Linked DNA regions of Homo sapiens: region 1 is linked to region 2. The links come from fine-mapping of genetic effects on gene expression. A gene starts in region 2. The other region holds a variant in brackets. All regions are shown on one strand. Distances are between the middles of the regions.

Region 1 (5,000 bases), 35 kb before region 2:
TAAATTTTAAATTTTATGGTAGTCAGAAAGTAGAATGTCAATAAACATCTAACTTTATAGTTTTAAAGATACTTTTTTCTACAATGGTACCCTCTTTGAAAAGAGAATTTTCATAATAATTTTGTTTTGCCTTTCTAGATGTAGTTACTCCAAACGGCTTGAATGTTAAGAAATTTTCAGCAGTGCATGAGTTTCAAAATCTACATGCCATGTACAAGGCCAGAATCCAAGATTTTGTTCGAGGTCATTTCTATGGGTATGATTTTCTTTATTAAAAAGAAAAAGAAGTATCAGATATGAGTGATCTTTGGTAGAGAGAAAACAGAATTGTAATAATAAATGTTTATCTTTCCCAGCCCCCTTTGTACATTAACAGAATTCATGTGTACATTTTGTTACTGTTGCTGTATTTCATTTGAAACTGTTTGGTTTTGTTTTGTTTTAGTCATCTCGACTTTGATCTTGAAAAGACTTTGTTCCTTTTCATTGCTGGGAGGTATGAGTTTTCAAACAAAGGAGCTGACATCTTCCTAGAATCCTTATCCAGGCTAAATTTCCTGCTGAGGGTAAGAAAGCTCTAGGACATGGTATAACACTCTTGTAGGGAGAACTTTCTTCTGTGGGAAGTGAAGAATTTTTTGGCTTCTTAAATAGTTTTCAAGAGAATAAACGATAATCGTATTCTAAAAATGGCTTCAGCCTTTCAATTTACATATTGGAGTTACCACACTGTTGACTTGTGTGTTTGTCTATAATGTCATCTTTTTTTTTTTTTTTTTTTTTTTGGAGAATCTTAAGCTTATCCCATTATATGTCTCATTAAGCTTATCCCATTCTCCCCTTCTATGTTTTAATAAGTCATTATAACATCCCTTTTCCCTCACATGAGTTTGTAATCAATTGAAAAGTAAATATAGAGAAATCCAGTAAATGCAGAGCAAAATATCAATTTTCAGAAAATCAGTGAAGACTATAATGGAAGATGTGGCTTATGCACATGACAATACGCATCCTAATACTGAACCTTGTTATGACTCTTAGCCATTTAATCATAGGAAGCTCTGACCATCACTCTCCTCTCCCGACTGAAGCAGGCCTTCAGAGTAGCACGTGCCACATAGCTGGCAGCCAAACCCGACAGCACGAACTCTCTATAGAACAGGGCAGACACATACACACTCGGTTCACTCACCTCCCCAGCCACACCACCTCCCTGCGACTAAGAGTTTTAAACTCTTGAACTAGTGGATGTCACACCACATGAAAGCATGAAGGAGGAAAAAGAAGGTTCTTACTCCCAACCATGTGAAATCATTTTTTTTACTCAGGAAGGTGGGATACAAAGTGGGTTCTCAACTAACCGAGCAACACAATATGCATAAATAAAAGCAACTATAAAAAAAGATACCATGTCATAGCTATTGATGGCAGCTATTGGTTTATATTCCAATCCCATCACATAAAAATGTAGAATAAGTAATAGGAAAATATTCACAGGAGAAGAGTGTAGAATTTCAATCTTAATGAGATAATGAGAAAATCTAAACTTTCCTGAGTTCTGTACTACCCTCCAGTTAAATTTTTATTTCTTGGACATAAATTTTTTGCTTTAGAGCAGACATTATGCCAAATATGCTAAAAAAATTTACTAAAGCCACGTTAATAAACAAGCGATTTATTAATAAAATCCAACTATGCAAAACAGAACTGAAGACTAAAAAGATTATTCTTAAATAACCTTACTTAATATTTCCTAGTATATATTCATTCAACAAGCTTTATAATGGACTCACAACTATATCACATATACAATCTTTAGGGACATTATTAATAAATGCATTTATATAGTTATTAAATATTCACTTTATTTATAGATATGAAGAAAAGACTGATTACTATTATACTAGACATAAAAGATAACTGCAATACTTGGAGAAGTTAAAAGAAGGAATTCTCTTTCCACATAGTACATTTATTTTTTGATAGCACCTTGGCTGTTCCTAGGGTGAGTTTCCTATTGTATGCCTTCAGTAGCTTTCCCTAATAAAATGTCAGGCCCTAGAGGGCCGAGGCTGCATACTAGACGGTAAAGTGCCCCACACTCTGGAGCTAGTCAGTCATTTCCAGAACACATAAACCTTCATAGAGGTTCATGATTTTAAGTGAGTTTATGCTTTCATTCTTACAGCTTCTTAACAAGTCATTTCCTTTTGAGAGATGCTAAGCCAGCAGTTTAAATGTCAGCTTTGGCACTAACCTGTTATAGGACTCAGAGAAAATATTTAACCTCTCATTCCTTTCTTTTGACATTAATAAAATGAGGAGAGAAATGCCTATTGTACATGATTATTAGTAGTATATTTAAAGCACCCAGCACAGTGTCTGCTATCCCAAAAGTGCTCGTCATGTGCTTGTTTCTTTGCTTTAGGGCTAAAAACCAAAATACAACATCATGAGAATCAAGACATTTAGCGGAAAAGTAAAAATAATCTATCTGTCATCAATCAACATGAATAAGCAAAAAAATTGAAATATTATTTTAGCTTTTACCAAAGCTTAAATCTTCATTAAACTTCCAATCTGAAATTTTAAAGAACTAATTTTGGTCTTGTAATATTAGCTCTCATTCATGCTATTTTTTTAACCACAGAAAAGCACAGTGTCATCAATAGCAATTGTTATCTATTCTAGATGGTCAAAGGCACGAAAATATTTTGTTTGAATTTTCAAATTGTTAACTGACAAATACTGATTGAAAGTCAATTTGTTTATTGGCAAGTACAGACTGAAAATTTAAAATTTATTTTGATTTTAATTAAAATTTCTGAAAAAGTCTCAGGAAGGTGAATATAATCTCTCTGTGAAACATAAATAACTATACCTTTTATCTACTGATATTTTAAAACTCTACTTTTCAATGTTTAAGTTCCATCTATCATACTTTTTAAAAATCTTTGATAGTTGACTCTGTGTTTTCTAATTCCTCATCAGATGCATAAAAGTGACATCACAGTGATGGTGTTTTTCATTATGCCTGCCAAGACAAATAATTTCAACGTGGAAACCCTGAAAGGACAAGCAGTGCGAAAACAGCTGTGGTAATCTCACA[A/T]CCTGTGAATGTTCTCTAGCAATAAATGTGAAAAGATTTCTTTTAAGTGAATGACATCTCATGTATCGCCTTGAACTTTGTTTTTTCCTTAAGATTATTACAGACAAATAATACTTGACTCTCTTTTCATCGTGCTACTATTTTAGGTTATCGTAATGGTTATAACATTATAGGTGTTATACAAATTTTGGAATGAGCTACCATTGAAGGAACAAGGCCCTGTAGAAATCTTTAAAGATGAGTCAAACATTTTTTAACTTTCTATTGTGAAATTCTAAGAACATGTCAAGTAAAAAGCTTAGTAATATGACTCCCTGTATACTCATAGTTCAGATTCAACAATGATCAACGAATTCCCGTCTTGTTACACCTATACCTTCATCTACTCCCCCTCTCTGCTCTCTATCCTGTTCCAATCATCATGAAGCAAAAAAATTTTAAGCTCTTTGTGCTGGCCATGGTGTTCTGTTGCCTCAGCTCTGGAGATGTCAACTTAAGCTGAATTGGCAAGTAGTAAAATAATAGAAGAGACTATAAAAAAGATACCTGTAATTTCAAAGAATGTAATTTCAAAGAATGTCAACAAAACAATAGCATTATCGTGACAAATAAAGATTAAACATTGTCATACTGTTTAAATGATAAATCTTTCTGTTTCAAACAGGGATGTTGCACATTCTGTGAAGGAAAAGTTTGGAAAAAAACTCTATGATGCATTATTAAGGTAGGTGCTTGAAATGCTTTCTACTTCAATCACTTAAGGTTTCACTATTCAAATTTAACAATTTAGACATCATAACTTATTAATTTTGTTCCAAATATCAAGGAATTAATAACCTTTGAAAATGTGTTATGTCATGTGAACAGTATTTTACCCTTCATTTGACAAAACTTGTAAATAGCTGTACAAATAAGAATACATTTATATGCAGGCAAGTTCTAATTCAATGATGAACTCATTAAGGGTTGATATGTCAGTCTGAAGCTGAGAGAGACTTCATGAGATTTTAATTCAAAATATATATTGACAATGTGTATTAAATATGTACTTAAATATTAAGTCTATGTGAACACATTTACTTAATAGAATAATCAACATTATTTATTAAAATACATGAAATATATAATATATAATCTGATGCTTAGGAATCACTGAATTAGTGCCAGCTGTTTTTATTTTTGTTATTAACATTTTTTCCCTGCAGAGGAGAAATTCCTGACCTGAACGATATTTTAGATCGAGATGATCTAACAATTATGAAAAGAGCCATCTTTTCAACTCAGGTAATAAGGAAAAAAGCACCCACTATGTCCCATAGTTATTAAATTCTATCTAATCAGTATTTTAATTTATTGGAATGTGCTAATTTGGAACATTTTCAGACCTGAGGCTAGAAAAGACATTCTTACATAGTCACTTAAATGATTACTTTGGACATTTTTTCATTAGTGGTTTTAAGAGCTCCTTTAAAACATCTCATGAAACTTGTCCTTCCACTTGCTTACAAAATTATTTTTGAATTAATATATTCAATATAAAAATTATGTATAGTTTAGTAACTACAAAAAAGTCCTAAATACTTCCAAAACATAGAATTTGAGTCACATTAGAGAAAAGAATATTTCTTAGTCGAGTGGAATTATTACAAAGGAGATAAAACAAATGTGTCAGGCTTGCATCAGAATGCTTGTTATAATAGGGAAGAATCAGATACTGGAGGACAGCCTTGCTAAAAGAAATCAGTAAAGTTCATCTTAAGTCAAGACTTCAGGACACCTTTATATTCCAAATAAGTCCCGGAAGCAATCAAGAAGTCCAGGTCTCTCATATAGTAGCTGCAGGCGGAAAACAAAAGCTTCATGTATTCATAGCATGCAAAGGAGATTCTTC
Region 2 (5,539 bases):
TTATGTCAAGTTTACAAACAGGGTATGGAAGAGAATGTTAAACTATATGCCAAAGAGAATTTTAGATAATAATTTAACCTTTGCGGCCAAATATAAGGTAATTATTTGACTGAAGGAGTATCTGCTAAGAACTCAAAGTTATTTCAAATCTAAGTTGAAAAAAGACAAATTGTTCTGATTCAGCACAAAACATGATTTCTAATTTGGGGCAACTGAAGTTGAGAAACAAATCTTAACCTCATAAAATAAATAAGCTCAATTACACAGCATGTTTGAAGAGCCTAAACAAAAATTTAAGCACCTACTATGTGTTCAACAGTGTTTGGTATTTTTCCAAGTAAGTATACTTTTTAATTTTAGCATTTCAATCTTTACAATTTCATCAAATTGTATTGTTATTTGTTAATACAATACGATGGAAAGGTTTATCATGAAAAAGAACAGTCCCCGGTCCCATCCTTAACTGCCCGCATGTTACTCTTTTGATTTTGAACCTTTGATAGTTCTTTCTAGTCAAACAAAAGCATACATTTGAAGTTCCTAGGTAAGTTCTTATTTTAATAATAACAGCGTTTAAGAGGAGGCTGAGTAAAGTTCCTGCACAAACGCGCAGATACATTTCTAGAAGCATTTGCATAGTTCTTCCTATCTCGCCTTACCCCTCTGAGCTGCACCTCAGGTCCTAACTCCCTGGGGACCTCTGCACACCCTGGCAGCCAGAGGGCTGGCTGAACAGCCGCAAGCCAATAAGGCTTGGGGAGCCGCAGCGCCAGCCTGGGCCGCCCTTGCCACCATTGGCGCGGGGCTGGACGCGCGAGCTCCCAGCTCCGGCGCTCGGCATCCAGCTGCTGCTGCTGCCAACCCGGGCTGCCCTCGGGCGGACTGTATCTGAGGGCGCCTCAGAGCCGCGTCTTTCCGGTGAGGAGACGCTTTCTTTCGGCACCAGCGCGGAGCAAGCCCTGCCCGCCCCATCCTATTCCAAAAGCGCAGGACTAGCGCCCTTGCACCCTTGGTCACTCACCCGGCAGTGGCCGGTCGGAGAGGTCCTTTCTCCGGCTCTGGTCGGAGATGAAGCGGCGACCCTCTGCAAAAACGAGACCTGGGGCTCAGCGACAGCCTGGCCCGGGACAACCCGGGCTTAAACCTCAGCTCCTCCCGGCACAGCGCAGTCCCCGGGCGTGGGGAGGGGGCAGGTTGCTCCAGGATAGGGTCGCGCGGGGCTGCCGAGTTTCCAGCGCTCCCAGCGCAACCCCGGGCTGAGCCAGGGGCCCTGGAGCTCTGGAGGAAAGCCCCGCGCCTGACCGGACGCCGCAAGGGCGCTTTGGAGCGGAGGTCGGGTTACTGAGATATTTCCCAGGCAACCCGAGTCCCCATTTGGACCAAGAGAAGCAACCCTCCAGTTTTGGATGGAGAATTTCTAATAAGGATGGAGGATTTCCAATAATCAGGGACTCTTCCCCTCTCCCACCCCTCCCTCACCTACCGGTCTCTTTGATGGCCTCGATGATTTAAGGGAATAAACTCGACATTATTCTCTCTCCATAACTCTCCATCTATCTGTTCCTGACTCCTAGGGGTCTTCCATTATTGTAGGAAGAGCGAAATATTTGGAACTTACGTGCCCCTTTCAGGTAGAGCATAGCTTGAGGAGTCCAGTTCCTTCTCTCCAACAGTCTCTATAGCCCGGGGGAAGGGAAGAGCAGTTAATAAAACATTGCAGCTCAGTCCTCTATTACAGCAAAATAAAGGAAAAAGAAGAGAATAAAACAAGAAGGAAGAAAGAAAGAGCAGAGTGGACACACAGTGCGCATTGTTTTAAAATTTTTTATTTTGCATTTGATTACCTGCGGAGCGCAGCTGGAGTTTCCCAGGAAAACAAACACCAGGAAAAGAGCCAAGGTTGTTGCTGCCAGACTTCTGAGTCCCTATATGAAGCGATCAACCAGAAAGGGTCATTTCTGTGCCAATAGGATCTTCTGCTTCCTTCCTTGACGCCTGGACAATTATAAACCCCCTTACTTCTCGCAATATTCTGTTTTAATACTCAGTTTTCTGGAGGTGTTTCCCTTCTACCTTCTAGTTAATTCACAAAGAGTCCACTTGAAAAAACGTATTTAGAAACATATTATTTGTATTACTTCACCCAAATGAAGAATAAGTAAATACGTGAATTTTTTTCTTAGTAAAATCAAATGATTCTGTTATTCTAAAGGCGTATCGTTCAAATATCCTTTAAACTCTAAAATCCTTATTAAACATGAAATAGGTAAAATGCTATAAAACGTTTTAAAAAATAGCTAAGAAGTCTCAAGTTAATAAAGCCTTTACTTACCTTCATGTTCTGCGTCTTTTCAGAACCCTGAAATAACTATAACTTTATCTGTGAGTTTTCGACTCTTGCTCTGAAATTGGAGCTTTTAAAATCTTGGTGTTAAGGGCACCTCCCCATCTGGAGTAGAGTTTGGGAGTCCACAGGGACATCTTGTCAGTCTTCAAGCAAGATTGAGAATCTGATGACTCCTCCAGGGAGCTTCATTGCAGGAAGTAGAGGAATGATTGATGGGCAGAAATTATTTGTTTAAATACTGATTGCATCACCCAGGAGGCCTTCAGAATGTGTCAGCATCATTGGCCTTGCTTTTCCTACTAGCTGCCCAAAGTAACATGTTATTATTATTATTAATGAAAACAATCAATAGTCCAAGGCAGAATCAAAAGTAAAAGAATAAATCAGAAAACTTTTCTTGGGTAACTAGCCATCAGTCTATCACTGATGGCTAAAGATGTATGAAAAGGTTTGGGAATCTCAATGGAATTTGACATCAGTCATTCACTTAATTATCAATTCATTCTGTTGTTTAGCAAATATTTATTGAGTGCCTATGAGACACACAATCCTTGTATTTCAAGGGACACAGCCATGCACTGAAAAGACATGGTCTCTGCTTTGATCTAAGTTACCTACTAGTTAAGGTACACAGTAAACTGATGAATAGATAAATAAGACACAGTAGTTACCCCTTAATCGTAGGTGTGTGTGGGGTGGAGGAGCATGTTTCAAGACCCACAGTGGATGCCTGAAACCACTGATACGTATATGCCTTATTATACTATTTTTTTTTATCTGTTCACCAAGATGGTTACTAACTGATTAATGGGAGAGTGGTGTTTACATATGGACATGCTGGACAAAAAGATGGTTCATGTCTTGGGTGGGCTGGAGCTGGACAGTGAGAGATTTCAACACCCTACTCAGATTTAAAGCTCACAATTTAAACTTATTAATTCTGGAATTTCCCATTTAATATTTTCAGACTGTAGTTGACCATGGGTAACTGAAACCATGGAAAGTGAAACCGTGGATAAGCAGGGACTACTGTAACTACAGAATGTTTTAAATTGTTAAGTAAAAGTAAGCAAGGTGATGTGATAGGATAAGTGGTGGGCTACTTTAGGGAAGGTTAAAAACAGAGGGTAGTCTTGAAGGATAAGGTGAAGTAATGGGAGAAGCTGGGCAGGAATTAGTATTCCAGGCATTCTCAATAGAAGAAAGAAAAGCAAAATCTGTGGACAGCAAAGAGCATGACTTGCTTGGGGACTAGGAAAGAGGCCAATGGAGGCAGCGTTGTGTGGGTGAACGGGGGAGGTGCTTTGAAATGAGATTGGAGAAGAAGAAATGGGCCAGTTGATGTGGAAATACGATTATAAGCAATAGATGATGATGGCTTACACTGGGATGGTACACACAGGGAAAGAAGAGCTGTAAATGAATTTGGAATACATGTTGTGGAGGTAGAAAATATAGAACTTGTATATAAAAGGGATATGAAAGTGTGAGAAAAATAAATCAAGGATGATTCTTAGGTTTATGGATAAAACTGTGGGTAAATTATGAAGTAATTTACTGAAATTAGAGAAACTTCTTAAGAAGCAAGTTATGAGAGGGAAATTAACACTTGCCATATAGGCATATTAAAATTAAAATGTATATTAAAAATATCCAAGTACAAGTACAAAATAGAAGGTTAGAAATGCAAAACTTGATAGAGGTCAGCCAAGAGGTCACCAGCCTACAGATTTTCTTTTTGGTGGGGGGCAGAAATGATTAGCTTTAAGAATTTTAAGAATTCTAAGAATTTTACAACCAGTAAAGGGATGAGATTAAACACAACACTTAGGGAGTGAATAGGGCTAAAGAAGAGTGGCAGGGACAGAGCTATGAAAACAAACGCATAGAGAATGAGCAGAGGAAGAGCCAGAAAAGGAGGTTGAGGTAGAGTCAGAAAGAAAGGAGAAATTCCAGGGGACCCTGATATCATGGAAGCCAAGTGAAGATCCAGTAGTATTGGGAGGTCAAGCAACATTAGCTCCAAGAAACATCCACTGGATTTGGAATATGATGGTTTTGAGGATAGAAGCAAGATTGGAGTTGGTTGAATAGTGAATATGATATGATAAATTAAAGCCAAGAATAAACAATCTCTTTTACAGATGTCACAAAAGAAGGGAAAGGAAAAAATGAGAATTTTTTTTACTGTTATTATTATTGTTATTGTTATTTTAAAGACAGGGTCTCACTATGTTGTTCAGGCTGGGCTGAAACTCCTGTCCTCAACTGGTCCTCCCATGTCAGCCTCCCAAACCTCTGGGATTATAGGCATGCTTGGCCTGTGAAATCTTTTTTTTTTTTTTAAAAGATAAGATAGAAGATTTGTTATACTTTTTGGGAAACCTTTCATTTCTAGGAAATTCCTAAAATTCCCTGAATTATGAATTATGAAATTATGAATCTTTTTGGGAGGCAGAGTGTTTCTTCTATTGTACAAACTGAAAATGCCAGATAGTCAGTTTTCTAGCCTCCCTATCAGGGAGAATGTGGGCATATGACACGGGCTTCACCAATCAGATGAGCATGCTTAGATGGGGAATCTCATGCCAGGATGGAAGAAGTGCTCGGGTGAAGCAGGGGTTGTAGTAAGATTGAGTTTCTGGAGTAGTCTTAGCTACGGTGCTAGTGGCAAGTTCCAGCATCCAGTGCTGTAGCAGTGGTGATGCCAGCTGCAGTGTCCTTTTAATAAAATCTTTGTTTTGCCCAAATCAGCCATGTTTATTGGTTTCTGTTGATGTGACAACTAAGAAACAATTTGTAAGACATGTATATTGATGGGGATGATCAGTAGGGAAGGAGAAATTCATGATGTAGAAGAAAGGGAATATAACAGCAAAAGGAAATTCTTAGAAGGCAAGAGGGATAGGATTCCAAGTATATCAATATTCAGTTAAAAGATCTATATACATAGGCAGATATTGAACAAGGACCTGAGTATCCACCACATACTAAGTTACCATGAAAGAAAGAGATGGTCCCTCTCTTAGTCCATTCAAGCTGCTATAGCAAAATACAACAAACTGGGTAGCTTACTCAATGGAAATTCCTTACTCAACTCTGAAAGCTGGGAAGTCCAAGATCAAAGTCCAGTCAGCATGGTTGGGTTCTGGTGAGGGCCCTTTTCTGGGTTGCAGACTGTTGTCTTCTCTG

Evidence for each region. PIP is the estimated chance that this variant, and not a neighbour inherited with it, causes the effect.
Region 1: its variant is fine-mapped to the expression of SPX in pancreas (GTEx, PIP above 0.99).

Annotation. Positions count from the first base shown.
Region 1 is chr12:21,558,484-21,563,483 of GRCh38, reverse strand. GYS2 (glycogen synthase 2) reads left to right here. Exons shown (of 16, transcript NM_021957.4): 6 at 139-256; 7 at 446-566; 8 at 2,992-3,098; 9 at 3,774-3,833; 10 at 4,315-4,393. Among named protein-coding and RNA genes, the nearest start is that of SPX, 35 kb to the right of the region's middle. RefSeq lists an enhancer at 4,361-5,000. The variant A/T (reference allele first, on the strand shown) is at 3,110.
Region 2 is chr12:21,523,272-21,528,810 of GRCh38, reverse strand. SPX (spexin hormone) reads right to left here and starts at 2,515. Exons shown (of 6, transcript NM_030572.4): 1 at 2,333-2,515; 2 at 1,845-1,925; 3 at 1,619-1,676; 4 at 1,022-1,084. The coding sequence starts at 2,338.